3 linked regions of the Homo sapiens genome follow. The protein of the gene in region 1 purifies or fractionates together with the protein of each later gene. This does not show direct contact. Each region holds a gene or a part of one and is shown on either strand. Other genes may lie near its edges.

Evidence for each region. Proteins that work in one complex are often made in the same cells at the same time.
Region 2: the proteins of DTX3 (region 1) and NDUFAF5 purify together in Homo sapiens (affinity purification with mass spectrometry; 4 studies listed by BioGRID and IntAct, with this or other methods). This does not show direct contact.
Region 3: the proteins of DTX3 (region 1) and RNF114 purify together in Homo sapiens (affinity purification with mass spectrometry; 5 studies listed by BioGRID and IntAct, with this or other methods). This does not show direct contact.

Annotation. Positions count from the first base shown.
Region 1 is NC_000012.12:57,599,988-57,607,828, reverse strand, and holds the start of DTX3 (probable E3 ubiquitin-protein ligase DTX3), read right to left. Parts: upstream 3,006-7,841; 5' UTR 2,971-3,005; exon of another isoform or gene 2,259-2,970; 5' UTR 2,098-2,258; exon of another isoform or gene 1,640-2,097; 5' UTR 1,577-1,639; intron 1,387-1,576; 5' UTR 1,340-1,386; coding exon of another isoform or gene 1,312-1,339; coding exon 1,311-1,311; intron 965-1,310; coding exon 216-964; intron 1-215. Other genes in the region: PIP4K2C (phosphatidylinositol 5-phosphate 4-kinase type-2 gamma), read right to left, coding at 6,223-6,303, 6,481-6,584, 6,751-7,018, 7,392-7,505. UniProt on the Homo sapiens protein: Regulator of Notch signaling, a signaling pathway involved in cell-cell communications that regulates a broad spectrum of cell-fate determinations.
Region 2 is NC_000020.11:13,802,025-13,809,044, reverse strand, and holds part of NDUFAF5 (arginine-hydroxylase NDUFAF5, mitochondrial), read right to left. Parts: intron 5,896-7,020; coding exon of another isoform or gene 5,713-5,895; exon of another isoform or gene 5,629-5,712; intron 204-5,628; coding exon 143-203; intron 1-142. UniProt on the Homo sapiens protein: Arginine hydroxylase that mediates hydroxylation of 'Arg-111' of NDUFS7 and is involved in the assembly of mitochondrial NADH:ubiquinone oxidoreductase complex (complex I, MT-ND1) at early stages. May also have methyltransferase activity.
Region 3 is NC_000020.11:49,931,917-49,939,413, reverse strand, and holds the start of RNF114 (E3 ubiquitin-protein ligase RNF114), read right to left. Parts: upstream 3,018-7,497; 5' UTR 3,002-3,017; coding exon 2,862-3,001; intron 1-2,861. UniProt on the Homo sapiens protein: E3 ubiquitin-protein ligase that promotes the ubiquitination of various substrates. In turn, participates in the regulation of many biological processes including cell cycle, apoptosis, osteoclastogenesis as well as innate or adaptive immunity.

The DNA.
Region 1 (7,841 bases):
AGCTCATATCTGATTTTCACGTGTGCCTTGGGATCACAGGGATGGAAAGGCTGGGCCTCACGGGGACCTCCTAGGTCCAGGGCACTGAGTAGGAGGGCACAGTGGAAGACAGCAAGACTGTCTCACATCTAACAAGCACACTCACCCTCACCCGGTTTTCCTAGGTCAGAGCTTGGGGAAAGCCAAAGGGTAAGGGCAGGCCATGGTCTTCTTACCCCCTGGACACCGGGCGGGAAGACGTACTGGATGACAATGGTGCCGTACTTCTCATAGCTGGGCAGTAGGAGGGTGGCGTCCTTAGAGACCAGCATCCGCCCATTCTGGGGCTGGTTGCCCACCAGCTGCCCATAGAAGCGGCCGCACATGGGGCAGGCCTTTTTCACCTGCAGAGCCCGGGTGATGCAGCCCTCGCAGAATGAATGCCGGCACTTCTCCAATGTCTTGGCATTCTGGATCTCCCCCAGACAGATGGGGCAGGTGCTCTCCTGCTCTTCTGCCTCCTCCCGAAGGCGAGGAGGAAGAGGTGGGGGCAGGGGGGGAGGAGGAGGGGGGAGCCCCCGAGCTCCTGGGGGCAGAAGTGGGGCTGCTCGGAGAGGGGGTGGGCCTGCGCGGTGCATCTCAGGGTGCTCCCCTCCACCCCCCAGAGCCAGGCAGCCCATCAGCTCCCCCTGCCTCTGAGCTTTCTTCAGCTCTTTCTCTGCCTCTTTTAGCAGCCCCTTGAGAGCCTTCCGGGCTAGGTAGAGCCCATTTGGAGGGGCCGGGGGAGGACCCTGTGGGGAAAGCTGGAGAACATAGATGTCAGAAGTCTCGCCATCTATGAGGATGGACACACGGTGCTCCTCCCGAAGCCGGGCCAGCCGGGCTGGGGTCTCTTTGCTCAGGAAGTCCCACACGGGCTTGGACACAGTCACTTTGTTCTTGCAGGTGCCTCCACAGGCTGCCATTCTGGACAGGACGAACGACACTGCCCCCAGGGTGAAAGGGACTCAGGGTGGGGGGTCCCCATTTGACAAGTATCAGTGCCTCCTACTTCAGGTTCCTTCCAAACCCTCTATTACCTCTGTTTTCTCAAAGCCTAATCCCCAACCCTTCACCCAAATTCATATTCTGTCTCCCCTTATCTTCCAAACCCAAAACCCACTGAAGAGCAAAAAAGTTTCCAGAGCTATATTATCATCTAAGCCAAGTATCAGTCTTGTTTCTCCTGTCATTTCTCCCAGATCATAGAAACAACTTGCCCCTCCCACCTCTTGGGGAAAAATGGGCTGTTTAAAGGGGAGGGAGACTCTTTGCCCCTCCTTTTTGCTTACTTTGATCCTGAAGAGCTTAGAATTGGCATGCAGGCTCACTCTTCTTTCCCTGCTCCCTACTTGTAGGTCGTGTGACCTGGTAGGGCGGAAAAATGGAAGGAAAGTGAGAAACCCCTTCTCCCAATTCCCATGGCCCCCAACCCAGCAGCCCATGGAACAGAGACAGAAACCTGGGTATAGGTTACTAAGAATGGCATTACTTGGAACATGGAATGAAGGAAACCAGTTTAAGGGTGAAAATTGAGGATCCCTTGCGGGGGAGATACCTGGAAAGCCCATGGAAGATGATGGCAGCAGAAATCCTTCTATTTCCACTCAGCTGACCAGGACTGGGAGTGGGGGAAGGGTAAAAAGTTATGATGGCAAATGTTACCATTCCCCTCAGCCAACCCAGAAATAAAAACTCCCCTTCCATCTCCTCTCTTCTCTGCAGAATTCCATTATCAGCTTCTCCCCAAGTTGCTCAAGAAGGAACTTCAACATGCTAACCTTCCTCCTTTCTTCCCCAGCTCTGAGGCCCCCAAGAAAGCCTAGGGCACACATAAGAGAAGTCAGGAAAGAAAACGCCCACACAGGTGGAGGTCTTCTTGCCACCTCCCTCAGATCACATGGACCGGAATATTTCCTATGCTCCCCAACTCCTCGCCTGCTCCACATTGCCAAATAATTCAGCCCCTATTGCCAGGGAGCCTTCCTTGAGAGCTAACTCAGTCCCTTCTGCTGAAGTCTGTTAAGGATGTGAACAAAGTGGCAGCAGCCCCTGCAATAACAAAGTTCTCATTGTCACCTTTTAAACCCAGCACAGGCAGTGCTGTCTGTCAGCTCCCAAGTCTGGCATTTAGGGAGGGGCGGGGCTCACACAAGGGCTCAGCTGGAGGGGCCTGATGTTTTCCCTGAGTCTGGTCGCATTGGGCTACGGGGCTGTCTCCACAACACTTCCAAATGCAGCTCAAACAGAAAGAAGGGCCATTAGTGTGACCTCCATTTATTGACTGATCCAAGAAGGAGCAGCTGTCCCTTCATGCCTCCATCATCGTCCCCCAAGGCCAGATGCACCTCGAGATTCATAAGTGAAAATGGAACCCTAGAGTCTCAGCCCATACAGTCTATCCGCGATGCAACACTTCTCTCCCCATCACGGGGGACCCAGGACCTAGGTGTCCTAGGTCCAAGTCCTGCTGGCACAGAAAAGGGAGGCGGGGCCCCAGTTTAGGGTGGGTCTGTGATTCCTCTGTGGCAACCCAGGCCGGACAAGGAACCAGTCTCTCCCTCCAGACAGAGGCCAGAGGGAGGCACAGCCCGGATGGGCAAGGGTCCCTGGGGGCATCCACTGAAGCAGCTCCCGCCCTCCCCCCACGGCCTCCTCCAAGACCCGACCCGGAACCAACTCCCCACATCCCTCAGTAGCCAAAGCCCCCGGATCCCCACCGCCGGGTGGGGGTGCATGTCGGCCCGATCGCAGCCCTCAGAACCCCCGAATGGAGGCCAAGGCTGGAGGGTGCTAGAAAGATGATCGGCCGGGCACGGAGCGGGGAGCCCGGAGCCGCGCGCGGGGAGGGGAGGTGGAGGAGGGGGCGCCGGGGGAGCGGGGGGCGCGTGAGGGGTGCGAGCGGGGCCCGGGGGGCGCGCGGTGGGTGTGGGGGGCGCCGGGCTCACCTACCTCTCGTCAGCGCCGCCATTGCCGGTCACATGACTGAGGCTGTTGCTGGGATGACGGTCCGGGCCTTAGCAACAAGGAGGGGGAGACCCCGAAAGGTGGGGGATTGCAGGGGGTGCAGGCTGAGGAAAAGGGAAGGAGGGAGGACAGCACCCCCTTTCCCCTCACAGGTGATAATCACCGTTCCTTTGACCCCCTTCTATCCGCAAGCCCCTGCCCTTCCTCCCCAAAACAAAAATGGAGGCGCTGTCCCAGTCTTTGGAGGGAGGGGGTGGCGTCATGGAACTGAGGGTAGGAGGTTAAATCCCTGGAGACGCCACCCTACTCGCTCCCCGCTCCCGGCGGAGCACTCTCCCTTTTCTTTCCCAGCCAGCTGCGTAGCAGCTCCCAGGAGCTGGTGGTGGATGGGTGGGTGAAGTGTTGGTGGGTATATGGGGATTCGGGGGGAGGGCGGCAATTTTTTGAATCCTTATGGTAGAAGGGCCTTTGAGGAACAATGTGGGATGGGAAGAGTCATAGTAAAAAGAAAAGCATTGGCTCTAAAAAATAAACAAATCCGGGTACTAAACTATTTCAATCCCCTCCCTCATCTCCTGCCTCTTTCTAGATTGTTACCTCCTATGACCCCCACAACCTGCTCTCAGATGATCATTGGTCAGTGCCTCTGATTTTTCTTTCCACAAACAGGGATATGGAGGCTGGTGCAGAATGGGAAGCGAATACATTTTTTAAAAAGTGGCTCGAGGTGGTGGTGGTGTCAAGTGTATGGTTCAAATAGAGTTAAAAACTCTCAAAGAAGAAAAAAAAAAAGCTCTGCTCTGCTTCCCACATCAAGCAGTCTCCGCCCAATCCAACTCACTTCCCTGGGGCCACATCAAGCCAGGTTTTTCCACCAGCCAAAAGACTTCCTCAGCCAAGACAGGCAGGAATCTCCCAAACTGGCAACAACCTCTATTCATCCACCCCTTTTTCACTCCCCCCTCTAGACTGGAGGGCTAGTCACTTTCTTCACTTTCCCAGGACCCTGCTGTACTCTTCCTTCCCTCCAGGAAGAGGACAGCTTTCCCAGGAAGCCTGGGGGAATACTAGATTCCTTTTCTTTTAGCTGGTGGGCTGAGAGGCCTACTCACCTTTACAAAGATGGAGTGTTAGCAAGCCCAGAACTCTGGGAAGAGGAAGGGTCCCATCACCCTACTCTTCCCTGGCCCTCACTACCGCTGACCTCCCACAAGGTTAAAGACTAAGTTTTCCATTCCCGTGCACACCCTTCACAGCCTTTTTAAAAAAGTTCACAGCCATCTGTCTAGAAACCCACATCCTTAGTTAGGGGCCCAACACCTTGAACACCAGAATTCTTCAGCTGGTCTCTGCACCCTTAAACACAGGCTCCCTGAGAGAAGTGAAATTTAAAAAAAAAAAAAAAAAGGCATTTCTGTACAGAAATTTGGATTGAATAATTTATTCCCTGTATTATTATAGTAACAGGAGCAAATACATAAATTTTTATTAATAAAACAAAAAAGATGAAAAACAGAAGCAACAAATGAAGACATCCATACTGCCCATAACACATCAGCCATATGATCAGAAAACCCATTTCTAAAGAGCAATGGTTGCTGGTGTCACAGAGTTTTATTGCATTCATCGGGGGAAAGGGAGATGGTTGGAATGAAAAAGATCCATCAGTCTTCTGACAGGAAGATGTTATATGGGGGCTCCAACCCCTAACTGGGTACTCCTCTTGCTACCACCTTTGGAGCAGAAGATGAAGGGGAGAGGGAGCTTCTCCCTATGGCCTCATGGCTTCTTGTGAGACAGATCAGTCCAGCCAGATACAGAGCAAAGCAGCTTTGCATCACCACAGGCCAGTTGCTGATGCCCAGCTTTATGTCTAAAAAAAAAAAAAGTGGAAGCCTCAAGGGGGATGGAGGATAGCAAGAAGAATGGGTGCCTTGGCCCCAGAGGCATTGTAGGGAGAGGAAGACAATGTATCTCATCAGGGTTCTCAACATTATGAGATTATCACACATCAACTATCTTTGGAGGGGCTGAGTGATTGAGTTATGGCTCTGACTCCTCTCTGGGGGTGGAGAGTGAAGATGACAAAGAAGGCCATCTGTCCCCTAGGAGACACAGTTGCAGTATAAGACAGGACAGAAGAGAACAGAAAAACAAATCCAACTGGAAAAAGGGGTGGGAGAAGGAAGTGTGCTAGGTACACACATCCAGGGAGTAGGGGAAGTTCCCACACTTGAGGCCTCCATCCTCTTGAAATGACCAGAATTGATCCAAGTAGAGATATTCCTTTCTTCTGGAAATAAACCTTGGGGATGGCTAGGCAGGATGAAAGGAAACTTTACATGGAGAATGAATCCTACACCCTGGCCCATCATTCCAGCCTCCAAAACTGGCCACACACCCACTGAAGGGTTCCAGTCCCAGGAGAGGTGTGAGGTTCTGGTGAAGAGCAGCAATAGTCAAACATCTTCCCCCAGGCTTGAATGCTTTTGGCCATCTCTGGGTTGCTGTGCCCAGATGTAGAGATGGGTGGAGATGGAATTGAGGTAAGGGAAGAGATTACTCAATCTATGACAGAGACCCAATCCAATTCTCTGCATAATCATGAGTCCTCTTAGGTCCCACCTCTGTGAGGTGCCAGGCTGCTGACCCACTCTCTACCCCACCTGTGTAGGAATGGCCATATTCCATCGTGTGTGTGCATGCCTGCACCCACATCTGTAGTATCTTGAGTGTCATCCATCCTAGGGCCCACCAGGAGGGAAGCATGCCATAGTGAGTTTTATAAAGTTATCAGCAAAATTCAGACACTTTTAGTTCATCCCACACAGCAAAGTGCATCCAGAGTAGTTGCTTGAGCCAGGTCCATCTGTCCAGTCAGGTCCTGAAGAAGGCAAACAACCCCCTTCCCCTAGCTCCTATATCATAGAAACAACAGGAGATATTACAAAGATCAAGGCACTTGGGAGAGAGTCAACAATAACATTCTAATACTACAAGCAGACTTCTCATGGGGAGGAAGAGAGGGAAGAAAAATGGGCAAAGAGGAAAAAGGACAATGTATTTCTGAGGGTCAGAAAGAGCCTACTCGACAGGATGGAGTTATCTGGATGGAAGGAGCCTGCAGCCTGAATTTAGCAAAGGAAGAAGAGAACTGGTGGCTAGAATATCCCCACAATTCCCCCAAGTGTCTCAGAACCCCACCACCTTGAACATCAGAGAGAACCAGGCAGTCTCTTAGGCAAAGATGTTGGTAATAAAATCCAGGAATCGCTTAGCATACTGCTCCGGATGGACAGTAGAGATCTCTGCCCCAGCCTGTGAGAGGAGATACGGAACAATATGTCAGGCCACCCTAGCACCCGTCCCCATCACCCCCACCCAATCTACCCCAGACCACCTCCATTCTTTTGCCACCCCATTGCTCTGGCACAAGAGACTCTATTCCCAAAGAATAGTCAAGACAGGAAAGGAAAGGCTTTTGCGAACTCTCACCCCATGCTTGACAGTTTTGGCTGCATGAGCTGCTTTCTTCTTAGCATCATACTGTGTAAGGATATCAATGAGGCCCATGAAGTAGACCTCCTTCTGGGGGGCTCCTGGGAGAGAGACCAACAATTCAGAGTAGGTTTAGTTCCAATTCCCTTTCTCCAGGAAGCAGTCAGTTTTGTTCTGAAAAGCTAATCAGGCTCTCCCCCAGCACTCTGGTCTCTGTCCTCCAGGAAAAATCCCCTCTCCACCCTTAAATTGTCCCGGTTCTCTCACCTTCAGCACTCCGGATGGCATAGACATCAATGAAGGACTCAAACTCTCCTGGGCCCAGGGGCCGATGGGAATGGATGTAGCCTCCGATACCCTCTGGGGAGGTGCCATAGGAGCCCACCAGAGCAGGAGGTCCAGTCAGGCTGCAGTCCCCATCCACCTCTGACTCATCCTCCCGCACGGGCGCTTCCTCCTCTGGTTCAGAGCCCCGAATGATGTCGTGGATGCCTAGCAGAAGGCTGTAGTCCATGATCTTCAGCTGCACTAGAAACTGAGACCCACTGACAAATCAGACACCTCTCTCTCACTCTTCACTGCTAGGTATCACCCCTGTACCTGTACCTTTGAATTTCTGGGGCCCTTCTGGGGAAAGGAAGTATAAAAATTGAGGTTGCAGGGCATACCACTGCCTTTAGTGCCTATATGTCCTAGTATCTAAGATCATCCTTTTAGCTTATTCCAGCCACCCCTTCCACGGGTCAGCTCCAGGGGTTTTTCATGTCTCATACTAAACCCCCATATAGGCAGAGGACCTGAAGAATAAAGGGAAGGGGAGGAGCTCCCTCATACCGTGAATGAAAGAGACAACTACCCTCTAGGGAGCAAAAAAAGGAAAGCCATTTCCCAGAGCACCCAATCATCACCTCCACATCTCTCTTCAGCTTCTCCAGAAATATTTTCTTCTCCTCTTCACCAATATATACTTTCTGGTTCTTGTTGAGAAAGTCCATATCCTTAAGGGTGGGCAATTCTTTAACCTAAGAATATGTAAAGGGACATCTTGGGAACATATCCCTTCCCCAAGGTCTCAGAACCCCACCTTCTGTCTAGGGCTCTATGCTAGCTCAGTTAGATCTCATCTAACTCCACACTGTGATGCTTCCCTGGTCTGTTCTCACCTCCAGTGACTTCCACAGACTCAGTCACTACAGCTGTATCCCAAATCACATCCCACTACTCTCTGCTTATGGTTTTTAGCCAAGACCCTCCAGGCTGACTTTTCTTTCTCCTCTTTTTTTTTTTTTTTTTTTTTGAGATAGGATCTCGATCACTCTGTTGCCCAGGCTGGAATGTAAGTGGTGTGATCTCAGCTC
Region 2 (7,020 bases), on another chromosome or scaffold:
TCAACAATGGATCCCTAGTGCTTTGCCCAGTGCCTGCCAAAGAGCTGGCTCTCAAAATGTTTCTCTCAAATGGAGTCTAAAAATTCTTTTTTTTTGGCCTACCTTTCCCAATGGAGTCTAAAAATTCTTTAAAGTGCCTTACCTTGTAAATCTTCCATCAATTCAAACATTCCAGGATAGTTAACTTGAATTTCATCAGTGTCCTATTTAAAAAGAAAAAGAAATATTCATTTGACATTCATGATACAAAATTCCAGATTTAAAAAAGAGGCCGCAGAGACTACCCAGACCAATCTCCCATGCTAAGCAAAAAATATTTACAATATTCTTCATAGATGTCATCTGGCTTATGTTTGATTTATGAAAGTCTCTAATTGCTGATTAAATATCCTGCATTGTGAGAGAAATCATCCTAAAACTCCATCATTGGTTCTAGTTCTCTCTTTGGGAACCACACAGAATAAGAGTATTCTGTACCCTACAAACCATTGCCCTCTCCTCCAAGTCTTTGAAAACCTTCAGGACACAAAAATCTGGAGATCCTTACATGTTCTGACTACATGTCCCTGGACAGTGTCAATATCAATCTTTCTTAAAATGGGGCACCTAGAATCAAAATATTTCATTCTATATCTAGTAATGCAGCCAATAGGCTTGTTTAGGAAATGAGCACATTGCTGATACATGTGGAGTTTGTTTCTCAAATGAACAATTGGGTAATGACTTCCTCTTCTTTTTGAAGCCTGATACAGGACTTAACTGTTGGTACAGTGGCAGAGACCACTGATGCTCCCCAAATATCCAGGTGCTCCTTGACACTTCCCAATCTCAAACACATATTTCTTTTGGCCAAAGAAAGGAGGGGCAAGACAGTTAAGAGCTAGAGCCTTTTCCAGGCCATCTCTTTTGCTGTGGTGATCTTATAGAACACAGGGCCAGATTATAGAACACAGGGCCAGATGGCACAGCTACAAGATGGAGATGGGCTGTCCCACCAGCACGCAGCTGTGATGTGATAAAACTTTATTGTGTTAGGCACTAAAAGTAGGGGTTTATTCTTATTGGAAACTAGCCTAAAATAATTTTTTTTTTTTTTAAGACGGATTCTTGCTGTGTTGCCCAGGCTGGAATGCAGTGGTGTGATCTCTGCTCGTTGCAGCCTCTGCCTCCTGAACTCAAGCGATTCTTGTGCCTCAGCCTCCCGAGTAGCTGGGATTACAGGCGCCTGCCACCGTGCCCAGCTAATTTTTTTTTTTTGTATTTTTAGTAGAGACGGGCTTTCACCGTGTTAGCCAGGCTGGTCTCGATCTCCTAACCTTGTGATCCACCAGCCTCAGCCTCCCAAAGTGCTGGGATTCCAAGTGTGGGCCATGGCGCCTGGCTGGAAACTAGCCTAAAATAAATCTAAACATCATTAATAGAGGACTGGTTAAACAAATTAAAGAATATGTATTCTATAAAATACTGTACAGTTCTCAAAAAATAAGGTAGATACATGTCTATAGGAAAAAAATCTCCAAGACATGTTATTGACTGGAAAAAAAAAAGCAAAAGAGTGCATGTAATATTATATAAGTAAGTTTAAATGACATAAGTGTATTCTATGGGTCTATAAAAAAAAGTGGATCTGAAACGATGTCTAAGACACAGCTAACAAATCTTTGGGGAAAGGGACCAGGGTTTGAGAAGTCAGGAGGAGGGACAGGCACGATGGCTCATGCCTGTAATCCCAGCACTTTGGGAGGCCGAGGCAGGCAGATCATGAGGTCAGGAGATCGAGACCATTCTGGCTAACATGGTGAAACCCCATCTCTACTAAAAATACAAAAAATTAGCCAGGCATGGTGGTTGGTGCCTGTAGTCCCAGCTACTTGGGAGCCTGAGGCAGCATAATCGCTTGAACCCGGGAGGCAGAGGTTGCAGTGAGCCGAGATCACGCCACGGCACTCCAACCTGGGTGAAAGAGCAAGACTCCATCTCAAAAAAAAAAAAAAAAATTGCTGGGTGTGATGGCACATGCCCTTGGTCCCAGCTATTTGGGAGGCAGAGGCATGAGAATCCCTTGAACCTGGGAGGCAGAGGTTGCAGTAAGCGGAGATCTCGCCACTGCACTCTAGCCTGGGCAACAGAGGGAGAAGTCAGGAAGAGGAGACTTCGTTTCACTTTACACCCCACTGTATCACTCTCTCTATATATACCTTACTCTTCTTTAAAAAAACATATACGTGTATCAGGTTGTGTATGCTTTTTAATGAGACCTCTAGGTAGTGAGACCATGAACATTCATCATCCATATACTTTTCCATATTAACAAGCTGTTTTTAAGAGGAGATCCTAAGATTAAAAACAAAATTCTTTCCAGGCTGTTATCTAGCCATTAAGCAATATCCTTTGAAAACAATTCTTCAGTGCAACCAACTAAAAGCACTATCTCCACTTCAATCAAAAGAATGCCACAACAGCTTTGTTGAAGGCCTTATTTAAATTAAAAGGGGACCATATCTGCACCATTTTTTTTATTTTATTTTTGAGACGGAGTCTCACTTTGCCACCCAGCGCCCAGGCTGGAGTGCAGTGGTGCGATCTCGGCTCACTGCAACCTCCGCCTCCCAGGTTCAAGCTATTCTACTGCCTCAGCCTCCCAAGTAGCTGGGACTACAGGCCATGTGCCACCACGCCCAGCTAATTTTTTTGTATTTTCAGCAGAGACGGGGTTTCACTGTGTTAGTCAAGATGGTCTTGATCTCCTGACCTTGTGATCTGCCTGCCTTGGCCTCCCAAAGTGTTAGGATTAGAGGCGTGAGCCACCGTGCCAGGCCTTGCACCATTCTCTTAAAGTACTAGTCTGGTAGTTCAGTTCTAAAACGGAAATCAGCTTTACTTAGAATGCTCATTCTCTGAAAATAATTCATTAAGATGAAAATACATTAAGATGTAAATACATCTATATGATACTAATCTGACTCGATTTCACTTTAAAAATAAAAATCCATTGTAGCGTAAAAGTAATATATCTAATGTATGCAACATAAACCTGTATAGCTGATTATACAAAAGCTTTTTTGGATGGGAATTTTTAGAAAATGAATTAGAACACATATTATTATTATTTTTTTTGGAGACAGGATCTTGCTCTGTCACACAGGCTGGAGTGCAGTGGTGAGATCATGGCTCACTGCAGCCTCAACGTCCCAGGCTCAATCCTTCCAACTCAGCCTCCCGAGTAGCTGGGACTACAGGCAGGCCCAGCTATTTAAAAAAATTTTTTTTTAGAGATGAGGACTCCCTATGTTGCCCAGGCTGGTCTTGAAATCCCAGGCTGAAGTGATTCTCTGACCTAGGCCTCCCAAAGTGCTGAGATTATGGGAGTGAACAACTGTGCCTGGCCAGGACGCAATATTAATACAGCACCTCAGAAACAAAACTGTATACATGCCTCACAGGATAAATGTAATGATTCAAGAAGACATTCTCATAACTTTCTTATTAAATCAGCAACTTTCTAATTGTATAAACTAAAGAAGATTCTACACCAATATTTTTATATTATATTAAAGTATGAGTCATTAGGCTCATTTTTAGAGAATATGGATAGTATTCTGAATTATATTTCCCAATTAATAGAAATGTAGGCTTTTAAACATTTTAACATCAGGTTAAACATTTTTAGTAGAAATCTTTCTAAAACTCATTCTTTATAACCACAGAAAACCATGTGTAGTTCACATAATTTAACTTTCTTCTGGTGATTAGCAGAAATCCCATTTTTTTCGTAATGGGCAATAACTTTTGAGTCCTGTAATATTGCTGACTAACCTGTATGACCTCGTATAAATTTTTTAACATCACCTCATGAAAATGTGCACTACACATCGCCACACCATCCCAGCCCTACACCTCCTATACTTTTTAGAGGCTTTACATTCCCGGAGATTCTTTTTTCATCTCAATGATAGGTTGGTGACACAGCAATATAGGAGACGATTCTCAAGAGGGTAGACTGTAAAGGAAATTTTTTCCATATTATAAGTAAAATAAATATTATCAAAAAGGCTTTAAATCACTGGTTCCTAATCTATTTTTAGTTATATTAGCTCTCTCAAGATCTGATGAAAACCATGGGTACTTTCCTCCATTTATGAACACCACCACCACAAATTTTGTGTACAACATCCCAGTATTATTGAACGGTCTAAAGTTTACCAACAGGCCTGCTATAAACCCAAAAACACCACGCAGGGATTTCTGTTTTGTTCACTGCTATATTTGAAGTACCTAGGATAGTACCAGACACACAGAAGGTACTCAGTAAATGTTTGTTGCAAGACTGAATACATAAATGAATTTGTATAGAAGGATATTCACTGCAGCATTGCTACTATTGGCAAAAAATCAGAACAAACCTAAAGGTCATTCACAGGTAAATAGTTAAGTAAAACTGTGGTACATTCATACTAGGAAATAATATGCGGAAATTAAGGAGTGCAAATATATCCATACCAATTTAGAAAACTATTAACAGTATATTGGAAATACATATACTGTTAATAAAAAAAGTTTCAGAAATGTGTGAATACATATGACTGTCTATATAAAGTAGTCCTTGTTAAAAAAAAAAAAGTCTGGAAGGTTACACACTAAAGTGATAATAGTAGCTACCTCTAGGACAGTAGTTCTCCAAGTGTGGTTTGGAGAGTCCTGGGGTCCCTAGGACTTTTTTGGGGGTCCACAAAGTCAAAATTATTTTCATAATAATACCAAGATACTATTTGGCTTTTTACCTCTTATTCTACGATGGGTTATTTTAGAGGAGACATGACATGACACATGGTGTAACAAGAAACTTGAATGCAGAAACAGACATGAGAATCTAGCTCTGTTACTAAGGTGCACATTAACTGGCAAAAATGTGAAGCAATGTCATTCTTCCCTTTCAATTATTTTTGTTTTAGAAAATATGGCCAGACGCAGCGGCTCATGCCTGTAATCCCAGCACTTTGGGAGGCTGAGGTGGGCGGATCACTTGAGGTCAAGAGTTCGAGACCAGACTGGCCAACATGGTGAAACCCCATCTCTACTAAAAATACAAAAATTAATGGGGCGTGGTGGCACGTGCCTGTAATCCCAGCTGCTCGGGAGGCTGAGGCAGGGGAATCACTTGAACCTGGGAGGGAGAGATTGTGGTGGGCCAAGACCGTGCCATTGCACTTCAGCCTGGGTGGCAGAGTGAAACTGTCCCCCCCCCAAAAAAAAAATTAAAAGAAAATATAGTTATTTTTTATTAAAAAGGGTCATTTATGTTAACAAGTAATAGGTATATTATTGTTAGCTTTAAATGAATACGAAAACAAATTCAGTTTTAATGTCTAATATAGTGAATACTGACAGATGTTAATTCACTATACAAAAAGCCCTTTAAAAGTTTCTTCATTACTTTTCAGTGTGTAGTGGGGTCCTGAGACCAAAATTTTGAGAACTCTTACTCTCAAGAGAGAGCTAAGCATTTTTAGGATTAAGGGGGAATGACAGACTTTCGCTTTATCTGTATAGCTTAATAGTTACAACCAAAATATATTTGTGTTACTTATACAATTACAAATATAAATACAATGATCCTTCAGTGTACAATTGCCTGTATTAATAGTGTTTATTTTCATTACAAAGTAGAGCACTCATGTGAAGCGGTTTTCCGCTTTCTAGCCGAGCAACCTCTCAGGATGCAGTTTCTATGGACTCAGGCCATTTAAAAGTTAACAAAAGATCAACACTAGTCACAGGTGTGAAGCCTCCGGGGTTCTCTTCAGTTCCCAGCCTAGTCCTCCAGCCTGTTAATTCTTCCCTCCCTGGAGGCTCCTTTCCAACATCAGGGGCCCTGCTTGCCCATGCCCCTTGCTTCTATAAAAACAAGGAAGGATATGACACAATCTATTTTTGGTTGGTTGATTTCATGAATATATTCACACAAAATCATGCCAAACAGCTATTTTAGCGTTTAAGCTTATCATCTCTAATTATGTAGCAAGATGCTTTCTTCATCAAGAAATTCCTATTTCCACTAATCAGGTTTAGGGATGTTTCTAGGCCTGAGGGGTTTGGAAATTCATATTAAGTCTACTGGACTGATCTCTGAAGAGAGTAATGACATCCTTTAGAAAGACTGTTAGTGGAGGGAGGAAGAAGAGGGCAATCATTCTCTCCAGATGGCTGTCTCTTGGAAGCCTAGTTCTAGAAAAATGCTGGGAGTAGAGTGATGGGGAAAGAGGAAGGCAGGAGCTAATGTAAGCTGAGCATCTACCATGGTCCTGGTACTTCACACCCTTTATCTCTTTAAAGGGTGAGGTGAGTAACATTTGCTTTTTTTTTTTTTTTTTTTGAGACGGGAATTTCACTCTTGTTGCCCAGGCTGGAGTGCAATGGCGTGATCTCAGCTCACTGCAACCTCCGCCTCCCGGGTTCAAGCAATTCTCCTGCCTCAGCCTCCAGAGTAGCTGGGATTACAGGCATGCATCACCACAATTCGCTGATTTTTTGTATTTTTAGTAGAGACGGGGTTTCACTACGTTGGCCAAGTTGGTTTCAAACTCCTGATCTCAGATGATCCACTTGCCTCGGCCTCCCAAAGTGCTGGGATTACAGGCGTGAGCCACCGCACCCAGCCACACATTTGCATTTTTAAAAGAAATAAATGCTCAAAAAGGTAAGTTACTCAAATTTCCCTATCTAGTAAAGAAATAGGGTAAGGATCCAAGTTACTCCTGTCGGAGAACAAAGTCCTACTGTCCTACCCCGTCACCGTACCATGCTGACTTCATGCTTATTACTCACTGATTGCCCATGGGTCTTCTTTCGAGATTTCTCTAGCCCTAATGGAGTACAGCACCCTGTCCTACCTTCTTTAGCCTTGATCTCACCCTAGGCCTTGAGAACACACATTCTCTCATTTCTGCTTCATATGGCACTGTTTGGGGGTAGTTATTGGTGGTAATATTACAGGTTCCCCTACTTATCCCCTTTTCTTCC
Region 3 (7,497 bases), on another chromosome or scaffold:
ACTTGACCATTTTCTACTGCCTCTAAGAATCTCCTTCCTCCTTGTCATTAAGTTAGATGTTAATGCTGTTAGGCAAAATTCCAGACCAGGTACAGAGAAGGTGAGGGAGTCTATTCATTCACCACTGAGGGCAATGGAAACTTGACAAAGCCCTGTTCTCATGATGCTTACATTCTAGAGTGAAGGGAAACACAAATGTTAATTTCAGATAGTGATTAAAAATATGAAGGAAATATGGCAAACAGACCAGCTGGGGTGATCATAGAAAGCTGCTTCTGAGGAGTTGGCATTTGAGCTGGGTGGGACCTGATTACGAGGACAGCCACACAGATCTGGGTGCAGAGCTCCACACCAAGATCACGCCACACACAAATGAGGACTGGAAAGGAAGGCAGGCAGACCTTGGGGGCCATGATGCGGTAGACCATGGTGAGAAGGGCAAGTGATGAGGCAGTAGAGACAGGCAGGGCCTGTGGCCATCACTTGTGTTGCCTGTTCACAAAGGCAGATGACAAGAGGAACCCAAGAGAGCACAGAGGGTCCAGTGAGTATAATGGAACCAAACCCAGCATGCAGATAAAAGCAGCTCGAAGTCTCTTCTCAAGCACACACACAGGTACAGCTCATCTATCAAATGTTCACGAGTCACTTTGTGCCTGAGACATGCCCAAACTACCAGCCTGCTTTTGAACAACTCAAATATCCTGGGATGGCTTTTCAGTTTCTATTTCCTACTTATGCGCCCTTTTCTAGTTCAGCCTTCCGATGCTCCACTCCGTCACAGTGCTAGGAAGAAATTCCCTTCTCTTGGGCACCCAGCCAGCTGCCTTTCTCCAGCTGTATTCTACCAGATTGGAGAACACAGTCATTCAGGGCTTGAAATAAAGTTTTATAAAAATCCAATGCCCCAGCCAGAGTTGCAGTGATGCTCAACTTTCCAAGCACAAAAGGTAAAAATCAACTAGGCACAGGAGAAAGCAGTCGGTTGGAGCTAGCGGGGATTTGGGCTGCCCTCACAGAGGTGCTTCCATCTGTCTTCAATTTGCACTGAACTGCTGATCACGTGGGGCTAGGACAGCGAGGATAGAGAAGAGCCAAGGTTTGAAAACCAGTACTGTTCCTTGCCCTCTGACCTAGGAAAGGTTCACCAAGCTCAAGAAAATCTCAAATTTTGCTGCTCTTCATTTAGCAAACTGTGCTGGGTCTAGCCTTTTTACAAATGTTAATAGTAAATGAAATCCACTGAATTAATCCAAAATCAGGTAAATCTGATCCAAGGATAAGTGGATTCAATGAAAAAGCTAAAGACCACTTCAACTCTCGTGAAGCTTGCTTACACGACTTATTAGTTCATTCAACCATTACCTGATCACTCACCCCACGCACAGAGGTGTGATCCCTGAAATACCCTCCCACTTGCAGAATGAATTTTTACAATAGTTTGACCAGTCATTGGTACTTATTTATAATCAATTCACTGGACTGTAAACTCTGAAGGCAGAGTCTACCCCAAAATCTGGCACACAGAGGCCATTCCAGTCAGTTCAGGGGCAATAAAGATATGGCCACTCCGTCATGAGCTGTTAAGTTTTGCTCTGTGCAAGCAAGGAGAAGGAAGTTAAGTCCCAGAAAGGAAGTGGGGGAAGTAATTTAGATGGGGATGGTATTTGGTGAGGTAACTTAACCTGGGACTTGAAGCCTGAAAAGGGAGGGGTGGGGGGAAGAGTTCCAGGCTAACCGAATTGCAAAGATGAATAGCCTAAAGCAACATGATGAAGCAAAAAGCAGCCAGCTAGGTGCCAAGCACTGTTCTCTGGACTACTGAAATGGTCACCTGCAGTACATCTGGGAAGAGCTAGGCCACGGTGACCCTTCCCTAAGAGAGCCTCGGACCCTCAGTGTATTCACCTGTAAAATGGCTGCCAACCCTCCCCCGCTGCAGGGTGGCTATAGAATAATGCCCATGGAGTGCAATGGCTACTGTGCCCGCTGCCAAGACCAATGCCAAGGTGATCCCACGATAAGCACTGAGAGGGGCCAGAGGAAAAGCCAATTCTGAGGCAAGAAGCAGGTGGCCACGTTGTCTACAATTCTTTCAACTCAGATGTGTTTGTGCGTCTGATGGAACAAGGCTTAGATTCAAATCGACCAACCTGACCAACCTCGAAAGCCCCGGCCACAGCCCAGGACCTGGACTGGACATTTATACACATATCTGCTTTAATCATTATAACCACTCTATTCACAATATTCAGGTCATGAAGGCTTAATTGAAAACTGAAAGAAACAAACCTCCTACACAGGAAGTAGAATGCTAACAATCCCATCTGCCAACTCCCACCCCCCTTTCACAGCTAAGGGCAAACTGGCCAGATCCCCATAAAGACTTCCCTTTTGTTGTTTTAGTCTAGTTCAGCGTTTCTCCCGACTTTAGTGCACAGTAGAATAACTCGCCACAGCTAGACACGACGCCAAATGTCCTATGCTTTAAGAGCGACGTGGACTAGAAAGGAAACGTCGGCTCTCCAAGGGCGGACTTCGGAGCCTAAAGTCCCCGCAGGGCACGAGTCCACTATCACGTGTGGGAAGGAGACTGACAGGCCGCCTGGAACATCGCAGGCGCTCAACAGACAGCAGCTGCCCCGCTAAGACGGGCGGAGGAACGGGATACTTAGGAGTGAGCGGGGCGGGACAGAAGAGCGCCCCGGCAGCTTTCACGGCCCTTAGGAGCCCCGGGGGACACCCCCGGGAGGCCCCTCTGGGTGGGTCCTCTGGCTCCCGCCCTGAGACCCATCTCGCTCCTCGGCTCCATTCCCTTCCCAGTTAAGCGCCCCCCGACCAGGCCCGGGCTCGCCGCTTACACGTGTCCGCAGGGCACCTGTACCGGCTTCTCGTACACCTCTAAGCACACGGGACACGTGAAGCGTCCTAGGGGGTCAGCCTCCGCCGCCGGCCCCGCCAGCTGCGCAGCACCCCCGCAGTCCCGCTGTTGCGCCGCCATCTTGCTGCCGCTCTGCGCCGCGCAACGGCGGCCGATGAGGAGGAGGCCGAGGGGGCGGGGCTCGCGGGGCGGTGAGCGGTTGGGGGCGGGGCTAGCGGGTGGGCCGCCCCTCGGGGCCCCTCTGACGCAAGCGAGCTAGAGGCCGAGGGAAATCTGGAAAACGTGGAAGCCAAATCCAAAGGCTGCCAGAATTGGGACGGGCTCTGCGCGTGGGCCGCTGTTTTCCAAATTTATCGTTAGTTCGGCACCACTTGCACTATCACTATTTATCTTCGAATCAAGTTGCTTTTTCCTTAAATTTATTTATTTATTTATTTAATCTATTTTGGGACAAGGTCTTGCTTTGTCGCCCAGGCTGGTGTTCAGTGGCGCGCGCGATCATGGCTCCCTGCAGCCTCGACCACCGGGGTTCAAGCGATCCTCCCACCTCAGCCTCCTGCGTAGCTGGACCACAGGCAGTCACCACCATGCCGGACTAATTTATTTATTTTTGTATTTTTTGTAGAGACGGGGAAAGGAGGGGGGGAAGGAGTGGTGCAGAGAGCGGGCGGGTCTCACTGTGTTGCCGAGGCTGGCCTCGAACTCTTGGACGCAAGCAATCCGCCTGCCTCGGCAACCCGAAGTGCTGGGATTACAGCGGTGAGCCACAGTACCCAGCCATTTCTTAAATTTAAGCAAATTCTAATAACAGATCTAATTCCTGAGCTGCAAGAAGAAAATCAATATCATTTATTTATACAAAGGAGCTGGGCAAGGTGGCTTACTTCTGTAATCTCAGCACTTTGGGAGGCCGAGGTGGGCGGATCGCTTGAGCCTAGGAGTACTAGAGCAGCCTGGCCAACATGGTGAAACCCCGTCTCTACTAACAATACTAAAATTAGCCAGGCGTGGTTGCCCATGCCTGTAGCCTCAGCTACTCAGGACGCTGAGGCAGGAAAAGCCTTTGACCTGGGAGGCGAAGGTTGCCGTGGGCCAAGATGGCTCACTCACTCCAACAGTCACTAAACTCCAGCCTGGGCAACAAGAACGAAACTCCGTCTGAAAAAAAAAAAAAAAAACAAAAACACAACCTGGCTAACACGGTGAAACCCTGTCTCTACTAAAAATACAAAAAATTAGCCGGGCGTGGTGGCGGGCGCCTGTAGTCCCAGCTACTCGGGAGGCTGAGGCAGGAGAATGGCTTGAACCTGGGAGGCGGAGCTTGCAGTGAGCCAAGATCTTGCCACTGCACTCCAGTCTGGGCGACAGCGCGAGACTCCCTCTCAAAAAACAACAACAACAACAACAAAACAAAACAAAAAAACCCCAACAACAAAGTACATTCATTTCATATTGTGCAATCATCACCATCAGCTATCTCTAAAATTCTGGTCTTCTTGCTAAACTGAAACTGAAATTCTGTCCCCATTAAACAATAACTTCCTCTTCCCTCCTCCCATCCCCATACCCCCAGGCCCTGGCAATTTTCTGTCTATGATTTTGAAGCACTTATAGCTATAAAATTTCCCCTGAGCACTGCTTTCACTGTGTCCAGTAAATTTTGGCATGCTGTGTTTTTGTTTTCATTTGTTTCTCAATATTTTCTCTATTTATTTAATTAATTTATTTATTTTGAGATGGAGTCTCACTCTGTCGCCCAGGCTGGAGTGCATTGGTGCAATCTCTGCTCGCTGCAGCCTCCCTCTCCTGGATTCAAGCAATTCCCTTGCCTCAGCCTCCCAAGTAGCTGGGATTACAGGTGCCTGCCACCACGCCTGGCTAATTTTTGTATTTTTAGTAGAGACAGGGTTTCACAATGTTGGCCAGGCTGGTCTCAAACGCCTGACCTCAAGTGATCCGCCAACCTCGGCCTCCCAAAATGCTGGGATTACAGGTGTGAGCCACCCAGCCTGGCCTGTTTCTGAGTATTTTCTAATTTCCCTTGTGATTTCTTCTTTGATCCATTGGTTCTTTTAAGAGTGTGTAAATTTCCACAAATTTGTGAATTTTCCAGTTTTCCTTTGATATTGATTTCTTTTTTTTTTTAACCCCCCCATATTGATTTCTAGCCTTATCCAATTGTGCTTGGAGAAGATATTTGGTATGATCTCTTTTATTTCTTCTTTCTTTCCTTCTTATCTTTCTCTCTTTCTCCTTTTCTTCTGTCTCTTTTTGTAGAGATGAAGTCTGGCTGTGTTGCCCAGGCTGGTTGCAAACTCCTGGGCACGAGCAATCCTCCTGCCTCAGCCTCCCAAAGTGCTGGGATTACAGGCCTAAGCCACCACAGCTGGCTGATGTCTACCTTTTAAAATCTCTTGAGGCTTAATCTGTGGCCTAACATATGGTCCATCCTGGAGGATATCCCATGTGTGCCTGAGAAGAATGTGGATGCTGTTGTTGCTGGGGAGTGTCTGTACATGTGTTAGACCTGGTTGTCTTACTGTGTCGCTCAAGTCCTTTATTTCCTTACTTGTCTCCTGTTTGTTCTATTTATTCTTGGGAGTGGGGCATTGAAGTCTCTAACTATTATTGTGGAATTGTCTATTTCTTCCTTCAATTCTACCAATTTTTGCTTCATATGTTCTGATGGTCTGTTATTAGGTATATAAATGTTTATAATTGTTATATCTTCTTGCTGTATTGAACTTTTTATTAACATACAATGCCTTCTTTATCTCTTGTAACCTTTTGGACAAGTAATTTTTCTTTTTTCTTTTTTTGAGACAGGGTCTTGCTCTGTCGTCCAGGCTGGAGTGCAGTGGTGTGATCTCAGCTCACGGCAACCTCTGTCTCCTGGGTTCAGGTGATTCTCCTGTTTCAGCCTCCTGAGTAGCTGAGACTACAGGCATGCACGACCACGCCTGGCTAATTTTTGTATTTTTAGTAGAGACAGGATTTCACCATATTTTTTAGGCTGGTCTCAAACTCCTGACCTCAGGTGATGCACCCGCCTCGGCCTCCCAAAGTGCTAGGATTACAGGTGTGAGCTACCGTGCCCGGCCTGGACAAGTAATTTTTCTGATATTAGTATTGCCAGCCCTCCTCTTCTTTGGTCACGCAAAAAGATATTTGCATGAAATATCTTTTTCCATCCTTTCAGAACCAGTCTATAAAGTGAGTTTCTTATAGAGAGCAATACAGTTGAATCATGTTCTTTAAAAAAAAAAAAAAAAAAAGCTGGGTATGGCGGCTCATGCCTGTAATCTCAGCAGGAGGAGGCTGAGGCGGGTGGATCACCTGAGGTTAGGAGTTCAAGACCAGCCTGACCAACATGGTGAAACCCTGTTTCTACTAAAAATACAAAAATTAACCGGGCCTGGTGGTGCATGCCTGTAGTCCCAGCTACTTGGGAGGCTGAGGCAGGAGAATCGCTTGAACCTAGGAGGCAGAGGTTGCAGTGAGTGGAGAACGAGCCACTGGACTCCAGCCTGGGCAACAAGAGTGAAACTCAGTCTCAAAAAAAATTTCTTTTAAATTAATTTTTTTTTTTTTTGAGACAGAGTCTCGCTCTGTTGCCCAGGCTGGAGTGCAGTAGCACAATCTCGGCTCACTGCAAGCTCCGCCTCCTGGGTTCACGCCATTCTCCTGCCTCAACCTCCTGAGTAGCTGGGACTACAGGCGCCCACCACCACGCCCGGCTAATTTTTTTTGTATTTTTAGTAGAGACGGGGTTTCACCATGTTAGCCAGGATGGTCTCGATCTCCTGACCTCACGATCGGCCCACCTCGGCCTCCAAAGTGCTAGGGATTACAGGCGTGAGCCATTGTGCCCAGCCTAAATTTTTCCTTCCTTTTTTCCTTCCTTCCTTCCTTCCTCCCTCCTTCCCTTCCTTCCTTCCTTCGTTCCTTCCTTTGTTCCTTCCCTCCTTCCCTCCCTTTCTTTCTTTCCTTTTTTTTTTTTTTTTTTTTTTTGAGACAGAGTCTCACTCTGTCACCCAGGATGGAGTGCAGTGATGTGATCACAGCTCACTGCAGCCTTGACTTCCCAGGCTCAAGTGATCCTCCTGCCTCAGCCTCCTGAGTAGGTGAGACTACAGGCATGTGCCATCACACCTAGCTATTTTTTCTATTTTTTGTAGTGATGGGGTCTCACTATGTTGCCTAGGCTTTTTTTTTTCTTTTTTGAGACAGGGTCTGGCTCTGTTGCCCAAGCTGGAGGACAATGGCAAAATCTTGGCTCACTGCAACCTCCACCTCATGGGCAAAAGCCGTCCTCCCACCCCAGCCTCCCAAGTAGCTGGGACTATAGGCGTGCACACCACACCCAGCTAATTTTTAAATTTTTTGTAGAGACAGGGTTTCACCATGTTGCCAAGGCTGGTCTCGAACTCTTGAGCTCAAATGGTCCTCCTGTCTTGGTCTCCCAAAGTGCTGGGATTACAGGAGTCAGCCATCATTATTAAAATTTGTTTGCTTAAATTTAAGAAAGGGCTGGGCATGGTGGCTCACGCCTGTAATCCCAGCACTTTGGGTTGCTGAGGGGGGTGGATCACTTTTGTCCAGGGGTTTAAGACCAT